2 separate regions of the Homo sapiens genome follow, and region 2 is linked to region 1. A link means that fine-mapping ties the variant in region 1 to the plasma level of a protein whose gene starts in the linked region. Region 1 holds a variant in brackets. A gene starts in the other region. All regions are shown on their forward strands.

The links. PIP is the posterior inclusion probability: the model's chance that the variant is causal. The UK Biobank Pharma Proteomics Project read protein levels with antibody pairs (Olink). The fine-mapping took linkage between variants from a reference panel, not from the people measured, so its PIPs are less certain.
Region 2: it holds the start of PRR4, and the variant in region 1 is fine-mapped to the plasma level of the PRR4 protein (UK Biobank, PIP 0.93).

Annotation. Positions count from the first base shown.
Region 1 is chr2:16,063,863-16,072,199 of GRCh38, forward strand. All of the region lies in intron 1 of GACAT3 (gastric cancer associated transcript 3), which reads left to right. Among named protein-coding and RNA genes, the nearest start is that of GACAT3, 18 kb to the left of the region's middle. The variant C/T (reference allele first, on the strand shown) is at 3,585.
Region 2 is chr12:10,845,634-10,853,970 of GRCh38, forward strand. PRR4 (proline rich 4) reads right to left here and starts at 3,842. Exons shown (of 4, transcript NM_007244.3): 1 at 3,741-3,842; 2 at 2,739-2,774; 3 at 1,412-1,734; 4 at 216-317. The coding sequence starts at 3,804. The coding sequence ends at 1,430. PRH1-PRR4 (PRH1-PRR4 readthrough) reads right to left here. Exons shown (of 10, transcript NR_037918.2): 8 at 2,739-2,774; 9 at 1,412-1,734; 10 at 216-317.

The DNA.
Region 1 (8,337 bases):
ATGCTCTGCTTCTTGAACACTTTTCCACTTAGAAATTTCTTCTGCCACATAGTCTAAATTCAAGTTCAAAGTTCCACAGATCTCTAGGGCAGGGGCAAAATGCAGCCAGTCCCTTTGCATAGCAAAAGTGACCTTTACTCCAGTTCCCAACAAGTTCCTCATCTCCGTCTGAGACCACCTCAGCCTGGACGTCATTGTTCATATCACTATCAGCATTTTGGTCAAAGCCATTCAAGTCTCTAGGAAGTTCTAAACTTTCCTGCATCTTCCTGTCTTCTGAGCCCTCCAAGTCTCTAGAGAGTTCCAGACTTTCCCACATTTTCCTGTCTTCTGAGCCCTCCAAATTGTTCCAACTTCAGCCCGTTATCCACATTTTTAGGTATCTTTACAGCAGTGCCCCATTCTGAGTACCAATTTACTGTATTAGTCTGTTTTCATTCTGCTAATAAAGGCATACCCTAGACTGGGTAATTTATAAAGAAAAGAGGTTTAATTGACTTACAGTTCTGCAGGGCTGGGGAGGCCTCAAGAAATGTACAATTATGGCAGAAGGGGAAGCAAACATGTTCTTCTTCACATGTCAGCAGGAAGGAGAAGAATGAGTGCCCAGTGAAGGAGGAAGCCCCTTATTAAACCATCAGATCTCATGAGAACTAACACACTATCACGAGAACAGGATGGGATAAACTGCACCCATGATTCAATTATCTCCACCTTGTCCCTCCCACAACACATGGGGATTATGGGACCTACAATTCAAGATGAGATTCAGTGGGGACACAGCCAAACCATATCGCCATGAACACTGAATTAGTGAATGCTGAACCATTGCCTCCAGGAGGAACACAGAGTCCTGAGAGCCTCTGGTTATAATGTTTTGTTAGTTGATTAATTCATGACTTTATTTTATGCAGGCTTCTATCCAAAGACAGAATCTTGTTGATTCACTAAAATGAAACTCATGGCCAATAGCCCTTGAAGTCATGTTGAAATGAAGCTCATCTAACACATATTCTCTCTGTAAGGCACATCCCAGCCTCCTTGCACTCAGAAACACTAGACAACACTTCAGCACTATGCTTAGGAGCCATTTAAAACAGACAGATTTCCAAAAGAAAGCACAAAAATGCAAAAAACGTGGGCACTAAATAGTCTGTGAAAGGGATGCTCATTTACAGTATGTGAGCTGAAACAAGGAGGCAGAACTTGTCCTGTTCAAACTCTGCTGGGAACATATGTGTGGAACTACTCAAAATTTCCGCCACTTTGTGCATGTCTGTGGACGACCAAGAAGTGCCACAAGTATTGATTTTGGAGTTACAAATACATTTTAGCAAGTAGGTGAATTCACAAGTATGGAATCCACAGATAGTGAGGGTGTACATGTGGATAAAGCTTGGAAACGTTGTAGAAGAAAATTAAAACGTTGGTCACAGGATTACTATTGATGCTTCTCTGTTTTAAAATTTTCATTAATGTCAAATTTTTTCCTTTGTTTAACAATAAATAACACTTTAGGGAAAACAAACAAAGCCTCCATCTGGCTCTTACACCCTCCTTCTCTGCCACCTTGTTCTCATGACATGGGCTTAGAAATGGAGGCGATGAAGCTTCAGGGTTAGGGGTTCCCAGCCTGGGCTCCTCCATGCCAAGGCTTCTGGAATGATCATTGACAGTTAAACATTTTGCCCCAAGGTAGCTAAAATCATGCCTTAGGCTGGGCGCAGTGGCTCACACCTATAATCCTAGCACTTTGGGAGGCTGAGACAGGCAGATTGCCTGAGCTCAGGAGTTTGAGACCAGCCTGGGCAACATGTTGAAACCCTGTCTCTACTAAAATACAAAAAATTAGCTGGATGTGGTGGTGTGCACCTGTAGTCCCAGCTACTCAGAAGGCTGAGGCAGGAGAATTGCTTGAACTTAAGAGGCAGAAGTTGCAGTCAGCCAAGATTGTGCCACTGCACTCCAGCCTGGGAAACAGAGAGAGACTTCATCTAAAAAAAAAAAAAAAAAAGCCTTTACTCAGCCTCACCGGGGCACAAAGCACTGACCAGTTTTTCTCTGGTTGTAATCATGTCCTCACCATGTGGCAGCTCCAGTGACCTCAACTCCATCAGAAGCTTTCATGCAATTTCCTGTGTTTTGATGACAGAAAATTTGGAAAACAAGTTAGTGTAGTTTGTTTAATAGAGTCTCCCCAAAACTGGGCTCTTTGGAGAAAAGATTTTTTTTTTAAAGGAGTGCTTGTGATGGAAATATTAAGAGCTGTTGCTCTAAATTATGTGAAAGGCACCCCTTTGGGTTCCTTTTCAAAGGTATTTGGCAGGAAAGCAGCTCAGCCATTGACGGGACCTAGATGCCCTATTGGATCATTCTATGGGGCTATTTGAAGAAGATATAGAAACTTCTTCATCAATACTTGCCGAAGCTAGGAGTATTGTCCTAATTTCTAACTATGGGGACAGGAAATTCCAGGCCACAAAGGTTGCTCACATTTTTACCTGATTTGCCTCCAGATTTGAAGTTATGTGAATGGCTTGTTTGTCTAACTCAGCTCTGCTCAAATCAATCTTTCACGGGTCCCCCCAGTAAAGATCACCTTGGGTCAAAGGTTATAGGTCATCATGGTTCTTAAATACCTACCCACTTTGTAGGAGTTCCAAAGTGGACAATTACTCAGAAATTAGGAATAAAAGCATATATTTCAAAAGACTAATTGGGAAAAATGGGTATGGCATGTGCAGTAATGTTTCAAATGTTGTCTTTATGGCTATCCCAATTAATTTCCAGTGTTTCTCCAACCTGACTTTTAAAAAGATAGAATACAATAGAAAGCAACCTGCTATTGATGTGCAGAGTTGCCTGTGTCACATCTGCTGTACAATGACTTGACCATTAGGATATTCATCCTTTTTATGTGCCTGGGTGCGCTCATGCCAGCACATTCTTAAATGTATGTGAGTCCAGACACATACATGCAAAGTTGTGATCAAAAGATTTCCCTAAAGTAATTAATTCAGGGCTACTGCTGAGAAACAAGGCAAAACTTGGAGGGGCTTTCCAAAAATATCATAGTTTTGCCGTTCAGTAGTGCTGACTTCTTGTGGTGCAAATCTATTAATTTTGATGTAATAAAAAAAGTGTTCATAGAAACAAGCAAGAAATAAATAGGGACATTAAGATTATATGGAAAGGTGGAAACTGGAAGGTGAGCTAAGAATTGTCCAGATGACAGGCAAAGGCAGTGGAGGCAACGTGGATGACGCAGGTTGGTTAAATTCATGTGTATTTTAAAAGGGTGACTGTCCATTATGCACACAACTCACAGGCTCTGCTTCCTGGAGAGCCAGGCCGTTGCTTTTTTGATGAAAGAAAATCATTTCAACATGCGGAAGGAGAGGGCTTTTTGACTATAGCTTCTTCGAAGTGTGACCTCCAAATGGTCACATATCAAGGTGCCTCGTATTTACCTTCATGCCGGGCTTTCAAATCAACAGTTGGAGACTTTCAACATTTCTATTGTGCGGTTTTAGCGCACGGATTAAAAAGAAATCCATCTGTTAATATTTGTTTTTCTTGTCCTT[C/T]GTTAACCAAAGATTCTTAGGAACTTTCCAATTTGAAGGAACAACTTTTATTCATCATCTTGGTTAGAAGCAGCTTCTGCAGCTTGGGCCTTCCTCTTAGAGGGGAGCACATCTTAAATAAGGAAGGACTTGGTGAGTGATACTAGCCCTTCTCTAGCAGAGCGAGATGCCAAAAGGTACAGGCCTGGTTCTAAGGTGCTGAATGAACTAACTGCAAATGGTTGTTGATTCTGTTTGCTTGTTGGAGCGCCTACTGTGCGCTGGACAGGGAGCTGGACACCTGGTAAATCTTCTATAGTCTTTATAACAATGTTGCAAAGTGAGCATTATCAATATCCCTGCTTAAATGAGACAGCGTGGAGAGGTTAAGGAATTTACCTAGAGCCACTCAGCTAAGTAGTTGAGCTGGGATTCAAGCCACATGTGTCTGTCTTTGTGGCCTCTATTGGGTCACACTTCCCAGAAGCCCTGAAATCACCAGGGAAAAGATGGCGTCTCCGAGAGCCCACCGAGGGGGATGGGGGACTTAGGCTCATCTCGCCAGGGTGGGGGAGGTAGAGGGAGCAGCCAGATGCTCCAGCCATCTCAGGTCAAATGAAGCCTGATCCTTTCTCAGCTTGATTTGACCTAGAACTGGGAAACAGATGGGTCCAAGCAGCCCCAGGGTCTGAGGACGGCTGGGCAGACACATGCGTCCTGGCTGCAATCGCTCTCGTTCTGAGGGCCCAGGGCTGGGGGCTGCCCTGGGACCCAAGCTCCAGTGTGGGTCTTTTGACTTATAAAACCTTAGCTAGGAATTCCTCTGTCAGGCTAGAGGGCTCGTCCTTTCTGAGGGCAGTAGACCCAGGGAGGCCCAGAGCAAATCCAGGGAGATAAGGCAGATGTCAACAGATGCATTGTAAACAACGTGGTGTGGATACTGGAAGAGATAGCGGAGGAGATAAACAGGAATCTAGGAAAGGTGCCCCATGGACTTGAGGCTAACTCAACCCCAAAGAGCTGTCCTTTTGCAATGCTGGGCCATGAAGCTGTTTAGAAACACCCTCTAACTGTATGAGCATGGGACCTGGCTCACAGATTTTTACTACATGTGTGTTAAGTGAATGAACTAATGAATAGAGACCTAGGCATTATTCATTCACTACTCATTTACTGATGTGAGGACAAACAGTTCCAGTTTGTCTAGGACTAAGGGGTGTCCCGGGATGTGGGACTTTCAGTGCTAAGACAAGGAATGTCCTGGGCAAACCAGGACTAGTTGGTCTCTGTAGTTACTGAGGATCTATGATGGACTGGACCCTGGGCCCCCACTGGGCATATGGAGGTAAGTCAGACTCAGTTCTCACTCTCAAGAAGTGCACAGCATGGTTGCAACAGGAAGATAGAAGGAAGAGTGGCAAGTGTCATGATAGGGCCATGAACAAGAGTGAGGCTATGGAGCCTGACACTTTGGCGATGGCTTTTTTTTTTTTTTTTGAGATGGAGTCTCGCTCTGTCCCCCAGGCTGGAGTGCAGTGGCTCGATCTCAGCTCACTGCAAGCTCCGCCTCCCGGGTTCACGCCATTCTCCTGCCTCAGCCTCCTGAGTAGCTGAGACTACAGGCGCTCCCCACCACGCCCGGCTAATTTTTTATATTTAGCGATGGCTTTTAAGAGGAGGAGTAAACACTGGCTTGAGTCTCATGGGAGAGGAACTCACCAGATCCCTACAAGAAGCTTGGAAAGGGCCTTGAGGTTAAGAGACAGCTGGGACTAAGGCCTAGAGGCTCACACAACAATGGTTTGGTTCAAGAAACAGTAGGCAGCATATGTGCGTGTTGGAGGGGTGGGATTGGGAGCATGTGGAGGTTGTAGGGTTGGAGAGGTATTTGAGGGTCCAGTTACAAGTGGTAAGCTATGCTAAGAAAGATTAAATTGATAATATAGGCAATAGGGAGCTGTTGAAGGTTTTCTGAGCATGGAGAGATAGAATCAGATATTACAAAACATTTCATTCATTCAACACATGTTTACTAAGCATCTATTATGTGCCATACATTGTGCTGGAGGAATGAATGAATAAATGCATGCATGCATGGCTATCACTTAATTTTCCAATCACAGTGAGGATCCTTGAAATCCAGGGACCAGCTGATGTGACTTGTGGGCCTATGATCTCTGTCAGAAAATCATTCTGCAATGAGCAAATCTAAGACAGCCAGCATTGGCTCCCGCCACCGCCCCCTTATCTGTTTTTCTTTTTGCAAAAGACCTTGAGGCCTGTAGTCGGTTCCACTACAAAACGGTTACACAATTTCCCTGGGAGAAGGCGAGTTTCCACCTTTGGGGATGAATGAGCCCTTTCTTTTCTGGAGAGCCGGCCAATGAGGCACAGGCTGGGTACTGCAGGAGGCGCGGCTGAGGGAACAGCAGGCCTCGGTCTAATTTGGGGGTAACTATTTGTTTTTTCATTAAACAAAGTCTGCATGGTAGGAATTGTGGTTGCAGGAGCCTCGGGAGGCCGATAAAGCAGGCAGGGCGAGTCTGCCGGGAGCAGCGGGCGAGGGAGCTGCTCTCTGATTCTGCTGCTGCCCAAAGCTTCCACTTTTCTGGGGCTGCAGGTCCTATAAATGGTGCCTTTGAGGAGGCTGCCCTGGTGACAGCAGGACCCTCCCTGCAGCACCCACTCGGCCACTGACTTCTGAAAGCGGGATTGTCCCTCCCCAAGCCCTGCCCTCCTGCGACATTCCTCATGCTGACCATTGTCTGCAGAAAGAGGCCATTGTCTGGGGCTGACATATCTGCTGACCAGGCACATGAAACAAGCAGAGCTTTGGGGAGGAAGAAATCCACCCAAACCAACAAAAAACCTGAGCCTAGCCTGAGGGCAGGGCTTAGACCCAGCTTGCTGAATTTCCTGATTCACTGGTGTTCTTCCCGAGACGAAGTGCCCACCATTGTGGGAGGATCCGAGTTTTATCTCTGGGCTGGAATGACACCGTCTCTGCCTTTGTGTCAACAGCACTGAGAGGCCTTGTTTAGGATGATGTGGCCAGTGCTGAGAAGGGCTTGTTTGAAGAGAAAAAAGAAAAAAACAGAACAATGTTTATCCAGCAGGCAGCTCCTGCCAAGGCGGCCTCCTCGCTGTCCTCTCCGTAGGATGCTGCTCGCCAGGCCTTCTTGGCTGTTCCTCGGCCTTGGGTGCAGGCCGTGGGTGGGGGGACAGCCAGCTGGTAGACACCGGTATTCGATGTCAGCTCTTACAACAGGGAGGTGGGTAAACAGGCTGCTGTCCCCACCTCTCCCAGGCACCCCCTGTGGCCTTGACTGCCCAGCCCTCCCCCTAACATCTTCCCCACCCACAACTAAGTTAACTCACACCAGGGGCAGCAGAGCCTTCAGACCTGTGGCCGCTACATCCATTCTGGGCACTTGGTGCCCCCACATGTACCCTTCCCTTCGGATTTGGAATATCACCGCTGCATGCAGGCACATTGCTGAGGCCAGCTGAATTGCCTTTGGGCATTAAGCCTCAGAGAGCCTCGCTACTCAAATGGTGGTCCCAGGACCAGCAGCAGCGGTGTTACCAGGGGCTAGTTAGAAATGAAGATTCTCAGGCCCATCTTGCTGTGTCAGAATCTGCATTTTAACAAGATTGCCTGCATCTATTTGCACATTAAGTTTGAGAAGCACTGGTCTACATCAGTGGTTCTCAAACAAGGCAGCCTATTGGAATCACCTGGGGAGCTTTTAAGAGTCTCAAAGACCAGGCAGCCTCTCCGGCCAATTATATGAGGATCTCTGGGGTGGGGGCGGTGGGGAGTGACACTGGAACATCAGTGTTTTCTCACACTTTCCAAATGACTTCAATGTGTCTCCAGGTTTGAGGCAGAGGAGCTAGGATGGGGCCCTCTTTCCCCAGTCCTTGGACTGGGTTTCCGTCAGTCACGATATTCTCACTTAGTACAACTCAGCAACTTTTCCTGAGAATTTTCTATGTGCCAGGAACCACAACAATTGCTGAGGTTTTATCAATGATGTTGGTACGTGTTCACTTCTGCAATGTCTTTCTGGCCCAAAGAACTCCTAGTCATCCTTCAAAGCCCAGTTTAGAAACCTCCTTCTCTGTGATGTGTTTTTTGACCTCTTGAAATGGGGAAAATGCTTCTTCCTTTTAACTCACATTGTCCTCTGCATTTTTCTATTATTGAATTTGTCATGCTGAGTCATAAACATCTATTTACCAATCACTGGACTGGGAGCCTCAAGGACAGGGACAGTATATTATTTATCTGTCGCCACGCTGGAGTGTGGTGGCGCGATCTTGGTTCACTGCAACCTCCGCCTCCTGGCTTCAAGTGATTCTCCTGCCTCAGCCGCCCGAGTAGCTGGGACTACAGGTGCGCACCACCACGCCCAGCTAATTTTTGTATTGTTAGTAGAGACGGGTTTCACCATATTGTCCAGGATGGTCTCGATCTCTTGACCTTTCGATCCACCCGCCTCAGCCTCCCAAAGTGCTGGGATGACAGGCATGAGCCTGGGCTATATCTTATTTATCTTTGCATCCCGGGGTCTAGGGCAGGGCCTGGGCATAAAGCAGGTGCTCAGTAAATGCTGTTGACTGATAACATGAATGCCTGAAGGAATACAAGAATGGGTGAAGATACATTCCCTACCCTTAAAAAACTTAAATTCTAGAAGGAGAGACCATCATGTGCAAAATTAATGTGACATTAACGTCTGATGGGTGTTTGACAGAGGTTTACCCAACT
Region 2 (8,337 bases), not on the chromosome of region 1:
ATAATTTTAAGAATTTGCATTTGTGCTATGCAATCTAGGACAGAAGGGGAACAATGGAACTCTTTCTCCTTGGCAGCTGGCTTTATTAAGATAAAGGAGGAGGGAAGCCTGCTGGAAGCATCAATGAGCAAGAGTCCCAGATATTCTTAGATTGTATTAATGGCCCTCAAATTCTAGACTCAGAAACACCCACAAAGAGAAGCAACAATCAGAAATTGCATGCTATTAATATTTTATTGGTATACTGAAGAAAGAGTTATGACCACATTATTTCAATGTCATGGCTTTCTGAAGGAAGTTATCTTCTTATTTATTTTCTGAAACAAAAAAAAAAACCAAGGAAATTTATACACAACATACAACATGGCAAAACTTATCTAATTCCTTGATGATATTACTGAAGTAAATTATTGCTTTCAAGATTAAGAAAACAGATTTTTTTATGGTGTTTATGTTTTGGTTACTGTTCAAAACATTCAAGGTTATATTTATGAAAATGACTGCAACTTGAACCTGTAGTAGTGAAAAACTAATACAAGCCTACATATCAATTAACAGTGGTTGACTGAGGAAATCATGGTACAGTCACACAAGAGAATAGTATACAATTGTAACAACAAAAGAAAAATGTACAAATAAATCACCAAGAAGATCTATAGGTCTCCGTGAAATGATAAAGTTGTCTAAGACATGTATTATTTGAAATAAGCAAATACAGATCTGCATATAAAATAATATGTCATTTGTGGGAAAAATAATGACGTATGCTTATATACATATAAATATTTCCAGGAGGATGTTCAAAAAATTAAGGGTGGTGACTTTTGGTGAAGGGTGTGGGTAAGTAGGATAAGGCGTCACTTTAAGATTTAGCTTCATACCATTCTGTTCAGTTAGATTTTTTTTTCCTTGAGCATGTACTAATTTCAAAATAAGTATTTTAAAAATTAAATAAGATATAAGAGCATCAAGTTCAAGTATCATTTAGCAGGGACACTGGACCTGAGAGGCTAGTGTGAGGCAGGACTGAGCAAAGAGTCCTCTGGCGGAAACCTGAGAGAAACCTGAGATGGAGAGTCCTTGGGTTTGAGAAGGCAGACTCAAAGACAGGAGGCAGAGCACCAAAGGGAGAGCACACCCCACTTCCTCATTACCAACTCATTTTAATGAGACAAGTCATCTTAAGAAAAAAGTTGGGGAGGTCAGTATTTCAAAAGATAAGAATTCTTTGAACCACTTGTTAAAAATACAAGGACTTGCAACCTTATCCAAGAATATCTGAATACAAATCTTTAGAAATGGGGTCCAGGATTATGTAATTTCAACATATTTCCAATTGATTTGTGAACACGATAAAGTTTGGGAATGGTAGCAGTTTGGGCATTTAATGGAGAATGAACTGGAATCATACCTGCCACTGAATTCTAGATTACCAGAGTGGTTGCTCCTGGGGATGTCTTGCTGGTCTGTCCCTCTGGAAGAATGATGATGCTTCCTGCAGGCTGACAGAAGGAAATCGGGGTAGAGAGAGTTGACGGTGTCCTCGTCGGGGTGGTCGTTGCTGATTTTGAAAAGGAGGTGGGGGAGGATGGCGGTGATGGCCTCCTGGTTTTGGTGGTCTCTGCTGAGGACCATCATCTTGGTTACCACTATCACCAGGGGGTCTAGGTAGGAGTCCTTCAGGAGGAGGTCTCTGGGGTCCCTGATCTGGTCTCTGACTTGAGTCCTCTACATCTGTGTGAGTAATTAATGGACAAGAATGCATGAGCTCAGTGAAGAAAAACTCTCCTCTCTTTATACTTCTCTCACCTTACCACACAGCCCTGTTCTCCCCAAACCTGCTGCTTGACTGTCAACTTCTTTTGTGCCCACTGTTTTTTTTTTCTTTTTATGCAGCTCTCAACTTAATCCATGTAAGAGTGATATGGAAAGTCTCATTTATTTGCTCCTGTGACAAGTATGTTTCCTTAAATGAAAAGAGGGGTTCTTGCATATCTTAGAGTTGCCAGAGGATGTCTCCAAGGACAGAAAAAAAAAAAAAAGCAAAAGCATTATAGCTTTCAGTTATGTTACTGGTTATTTTTTATTTTTATTTTTTGGTTGCTGTAATGACTTACAAACTGTGACTCCATCTCTGGGCACCTAAGCCCTATGTGGAAACTAGAGCTGATTTCCCAGGCTCCTGGAACCAAGTAGAGAAATACTAAGAGACAGAAGAGAAAGACAATGTGAAAGCCTGCACATGATCACTAAACAGCTGTGGCAACTATTTATCATCTGTAGTGACACAGCTGAGTGGGTCAACACAGAGAAAAGACATTCATGCAGTGATTTTTTTGTTTTGTTTTGTGTTACTCCCTGAAGCCACATAACCGTGCGGGGGAACACTGGGGGAAGAAAGAAGCAGTTAAGGATGGAGGAGTCAGAATGAGAACACTTCTCATTTGTTCATCATCTCTCAGCAGTCATTCCAGCCTGGGAAAAAAGCCTGCCCACTCCTATTGTCCTCAAAGCCAGGCATCTCTGTATTCAAGTTGGTGGCCTGGCTCATGGTCCCCAGAATCAAAGATGGGTAAGAATTGCCTATATATTTAGGGGCACTAATATTAATCAATGCCTGACCCCTCTTACCACCTCCTCCCAAAAAAATGATGAGAAGAAGACACTGAAGGAAACTAAAAAGAAATTCTAGTGGAAAAAGAAAGAAAAGAATTGGATTGAGGATCATTGGGATTTACCTGGTATGGTGAAAGTAAAGTCTTCATAGTTCACATCTAGGAAAAGAAGCACAGGATGAAGTGAACATTACCTCATAAATCTTTCAGGGCTCATAGTGGTCTATAGGGAAAGGGGTCTTCTGGCCACACCCTGTGCATCCCCTAAGTTACCTCATCAACCATGTTCTGTGAAGCTGCTGGAAGGGGAGGAAGATGTTAGGGGAGGCAGGATTGTTACTATCGCTGAGCATCAACCACGAATTCAATAGAAGAGTCCCTTTTTGTCATCCTTAGGATCCCTCAAACCCTAATGCTAATTTAGGCACACTTCTCTGGGTATTTTCATGTCATATTTTAGATCTTTACCTTCTTCCTTCTTTAAATATTTTGATCATATTCACAAGCTTGCCCAAGAGGAGCAACCAGGAGTAAATATTTGGATATAATCTTACACATGCTGCCTGCAACATATTGAAATTTTAAATGTGATTGGAAGAAAAATGGGAATTTGGGGACCTGATATTTCTATACCACTATGTAGAAAGACACAAATGTATTATCCAGTCCTCTATGTCTGACAGTACTCTGATGTTTGTTTATCTCTTTCATTGATTCTGCATCCCCTGTACAGCAAGGACACCATCATCGCTGTCCACTGAGATTACTGTAGCATCTTCATAGCTGGACTTCCCTGGATCAGTCTTGCATTCTCCACTGCATCCTTCACAGCACAGCCAGGTCTTTCTAAAAATACAAATCTTACTTTGTCATTCCTCTAATTGAAATTCTCTATTGGGTTCCAAGTGTATATCAAATAAAGTATAAGGCCTTGGCATGGAATGAGGGCACAACAGATGTCATCCTTGGAATGAGAGCTCCAAAGCCCTACCCTTCTTCTCAACCTCCTTCCTCCCCTCCTGCTCTTCCGCTGCAGTGGTGTAGGGTGAACCCCTGAGGCCCTAGAAGAGTCATGGCCCCTCATCCCACTCCCCATCTCCTTTTTTAAAAAAATAATTTTTTTACCATTATCTGTGCTCTGAGCTGAGCTCAGAGCCAGAAGGACCACTGAGAGCAGGACCAGCAGCATCTTGAAGGAGGCTCTGGAGTTGCTCCCAACTCTGCGTTGAGAGAAACATGGCAGCTCCCTTTATAAACATGAGCAGAACAATGGCACCTTTGAGCTCCATACTGGGTGGACCTCACCACCTGAAAGATTAGGTTTTGCTTTCCTCTCATAAAGTTGAATGCGTCTCTTATTACTTTTTGGGATTTTAGCCCAGCAGGATGTGGTGGTAGGATGTGGTTAGGTACAAACTGTGACTTGAGCATAGTTTCTGAAGAAACAGTATCCAAGCAATCAGCACAAATACTACAATTGAAGTTTGGTCATCATTTGATTTTCAATTGGGTTAGACAGTTAGTCTTTCCCCTTCATTGGTTGTCTGTGTGCACACGTGCTTACGTTTGTATATGTTTGTCAGCAGTGATCTTATAGCCAGAAGTGAAAATGATTAATATCTCTAGCTATTAGTGTAGCATAAATTCCATTTTTATAGCATATATACCTATATGGATGATATGTAGCTTAATTTCATAATAATATAGAGATCATTTCTGTTTAATGTTGAGTTGTGTGAGGACAACACACACTTGGGCACACGTGGATGACAGAAGTTTTACCCTCAGGCTACTCTGGCCCAAAGAGATTAAGATTCTCCTAATCTAGCATTAACCAGAGATACTTTATTGTTGTAGAACACAGGTATTAAAACATTCTATCTTTATTAATACCCTGGAGGTTAGTAAGGCAAAATTGGCCACAGAAAGCACCATTAGATTTCTGCATCAGAACAGTGTGAATACACAGTTCCTTGAACAAGCCATGCTATTTTATGTCCCTAAGACTTCTTCCATGATCTTTCTCTTTTCTAGAATGTTCTATATGATTCAGTTTAGGTCTTACTTCTTGTACCAAATATTTTAATCACACTGGTTATTGAGTGGACACAATAATACAATCTAATTAGATAGTATGATAGCCTGTTGAAAGCCTCAAGTATTACATTGATTTTCTATTTTTTAATTAGTTTCCATTCTATTTGCTTCTCAGATTGCCTTTACCAAAGATTATTTTCTCTGCAATATTCTTATACTCATTCTTCTTCACTCTTGTGCTGAACCTTACTTGTTGATATGTTATATTGTGAATCAATCCTCCCTATGTCTATGTTTTATATCTTACTGCTTTCTTCATGCGTTCTGGGAGAAATCTTTATTTGATTTTCTAAACAAGGTTCTGTACTTCTCTTTGCTTGCTTTCTTCTTTTTTGTTTTTAAAATTTGGCACCAAGGTTTTGTGTTTCTGAAAAGTTTGGTAGGGTCCTGAGTTGGTAGCTTAATCTTCACCTGCTGATTTTTCTGTCCTATCTAGTAGTTTTCTGCTTATATTTTCATGGAACCCCTAGATCAATCAGTATCACCAGCTGCCACTTTTCATTACAGGCATTGTATAGGTCTCGTATTATTGTTACATTTTTGTACAGGGCTGGTGATAATTTGAGGATAGCTTGGTTGGAAGTATGACAGGGTCGGGGGAATGTGACTGGAAATCTTAAAGACAGGCCTCTTGACCATTGTGGATAAGTGGATCCTGTGCTGTGCAGATGAAGGTCTGGTCTGGCAATTCTGAAGGGTTGGAGGTAATATTACAGGAAGATTTTCTAATCAATGGTGTTTGTTATGGATAACTTTACTTTGGCAAAGTGACCAAAAAATAAATATTTTCTCTGGCATAATTATGGACATATTTTGAAGGTGAAATATATTATGAGTTAGCAATTCTTCTCTATGTGGGAAGCAGAAGAGTTCTAGCTGTGCTTTAGGGTTTTATGGGTGAGAGAGAGTAGTTGTTTGGGCCTACAGACCCAGCTGTGTTACTAGGATTGCTGCCTCTGATTTCACCAGACACTGTTTAACATGGGAAGTGGAGATAAGTAGTTCTGCCTAGGTGGCTTATGGTAGACCATCAGGTAGGAAAGGAAGGTCAGCGAGAAGGAGCAGAGGGGCGTGCCATGCAGACATGATTCACTGTGTGGGTGGCTGAGGAAACTGCAGTCCTGGTGGAAGGCAGGCTTCTCCTTGGCTGGTGAGTGCAGGAAGACAACAGGTGATGCCTGCAAATATCACTCAGCTCAGACCCTTACCCTGACATTCTCCAGTGTAAGCAATGAGAGAAAGAGATTAATGTATCAGGAAATAATAAACATCAGCTATGATCTCACCACACACAACCACAACAGAGGTGACGGAGGAGCTGAAACAGACACTGTCAGTGAGTGAGGGTGGGGTCAAATCGAGAAGCAGGACTGCAGCAGGAGCTTAGGCACTTGTAGGTGAGTGGACACTCTCAGCAATCCACTTGCCTTTTACAACAGATGAAAACTTAACATACCCCTAATATAATTCTTGATTTCTACTTCCTAAAACCTGCTCTCCTTCATACTAATTTGTTATGGCTACCCTAAAAAAATGCCCCACAAGTGGCTTAAACAACAGAAATTTACTTTCTCATAGTTCTGGAGCTTGAAGTACAAGATTAAGGTGTCAACAGGTTTGGTGTCTTCTGAGGCCCTGTCTCCTTCACTTCTAGATGGCCGGTTCTTGCTGTATCTTCACATGGGGTTTTATCTGTAGACGTGCATCCCTGGTACCCCTCTGTGGTCTGTGCTAATGTTCTTTTCTTATGAGGACAGGTGTCAGATGGGATTAGCACCAACCCTATCAGCTTCATTTTAACCTAATCACCTCTTTAAAGGCCATGCTGCAAATAGAGTCACATTCAGTGGTATCGGGGGTAAGGGATTCAACATGAGAGTTTGGAGGGAACACAATTTAGCTGATAACACCTCACAATCTTTTCTCAGTTCATGACATTTGTTTCACTCAACCATTCAAAAACATAAGTGTCACTCTTGATTGTTTAGTCTCCTCCGTGTACTGCCCTTAGCAAATCCAATTGGTTCTACCTTCAAAAGATATCCCATATATGATCAGTTTCATAATCTCTATCAGAAGGTCCTGAGTCAAGCCATGATTCTCCCTCCTGGAGGACTTTCAACAGTCTCCAGCTGATCTTGGTGACATTCCTGCCCCTCACCACATCCCAAGCAGTTCTCCTTACAACAGCCAGAGTGATCTTTTAAAAATAGAATTTAGAACATCAGCAAGATGGCTGACTAGAGTTCCCTGGCACTCATTTCCCCACAAAAAGAAATCAAGAAAACAAACAATTTTATGTCAGCCAGTGTGATTTAAAAAGTATGCTGGAGACCACCAGGGGAACAGAAACACCTCTGTGAAGTACAGAAACTCAATATAGCATCCTGCCTCTGACATACTCTCTCTTCAGTCAAGGTTGGCTCAGGGTCATCAGTAACTCCATTCTACAGGAAAAAGTAAGCTGTAGTTCCCCAGTGGTCCACATTGCCATAAAAAATGTCAACAATCTTTGCCCCACTGTTCTCACTGGCACAAAAACCAGTCTGGAGAGCAGTTGGGATTTCCAAACTGCATTGCCTTACATAGTAAGAGACCACCTTGAGCACCCTCTGCCCCTGCAATGTAAGGTGCTATGGCTCAGTGCCATCTCCAAACTGAACCTACATAGAGAGTGTGTCTTGCTTTGAGCATCAGTAGCACCTGGCTCTCTATCACTTGAGGCCCCACCATCATTCCAACACATTCATACAGGTATCTGCAGCACCATGACCCTAGCTTCCCAGAGCCTAGCCAGATAAACTAATCAAGACCCCGGCATCCGAACCCATGTGGTGCACCACCAATCCAGGGAAGAAGTGAACAGCAGGGAAGCCACCCATCTGCCTACTAGCCACGACACCCACATGCACCCACACCTCACAACCAGCTAGTCTGCTGAGCCTGTGCATGCTGGTGCCCAGCCTGAAAACTGGTCCTGTGGTGGGCCCACCCCCAGGACTACAGCCTGCTTGGGCCACAACAACTCTGAGTTTGTGCATGGTCTAATAATTGGTCCTGCAGTGACCCTGCCTCCTCAGATGGGACTCTGCAGAGATGGATGGCCCTGCTACACCTGTGAGCACTGACAGCAACCCGCCCACCCAGCAGGAAGACAGCAGTGCATGTAAGTGCACACACCTTGAGAAAAGGCTCTTCCCACTGCTGCTGGTGGCACAGTTGCTGCTGTCACCACCGGGGGCTGCAGCAGTGAAATGCCAGTTGGACCCAGCAAAGTGGCAGGATCCTCAGCATTCTAGCATATGCAGTGTTCTGCACCTCAGGCACTGGAAAGGCTGTGAACCAGACATAGGGAGCCAAAGCACATGCTTTCCAGAACCAGAGAGCTGCCTCCCTGTGGCTGCTGACACAGACAGCAATGTCACCCCCGCAACACAGCAGCAGAGATGCTGCACACTTGCATGCAACCTGGGGACAGGCCCTCTCCATCTGCTGCTGAGTCTGCTGATGCAGCTGGGGGCCAGAGCATGTGCCACTGGCAGTGACCTGACTTCCACCAGCAGCAGAGCCACTGTGAACTTGCACGTACCCTGAGGACTGGCTTATGCTGCTGCCAGAAGCCAAA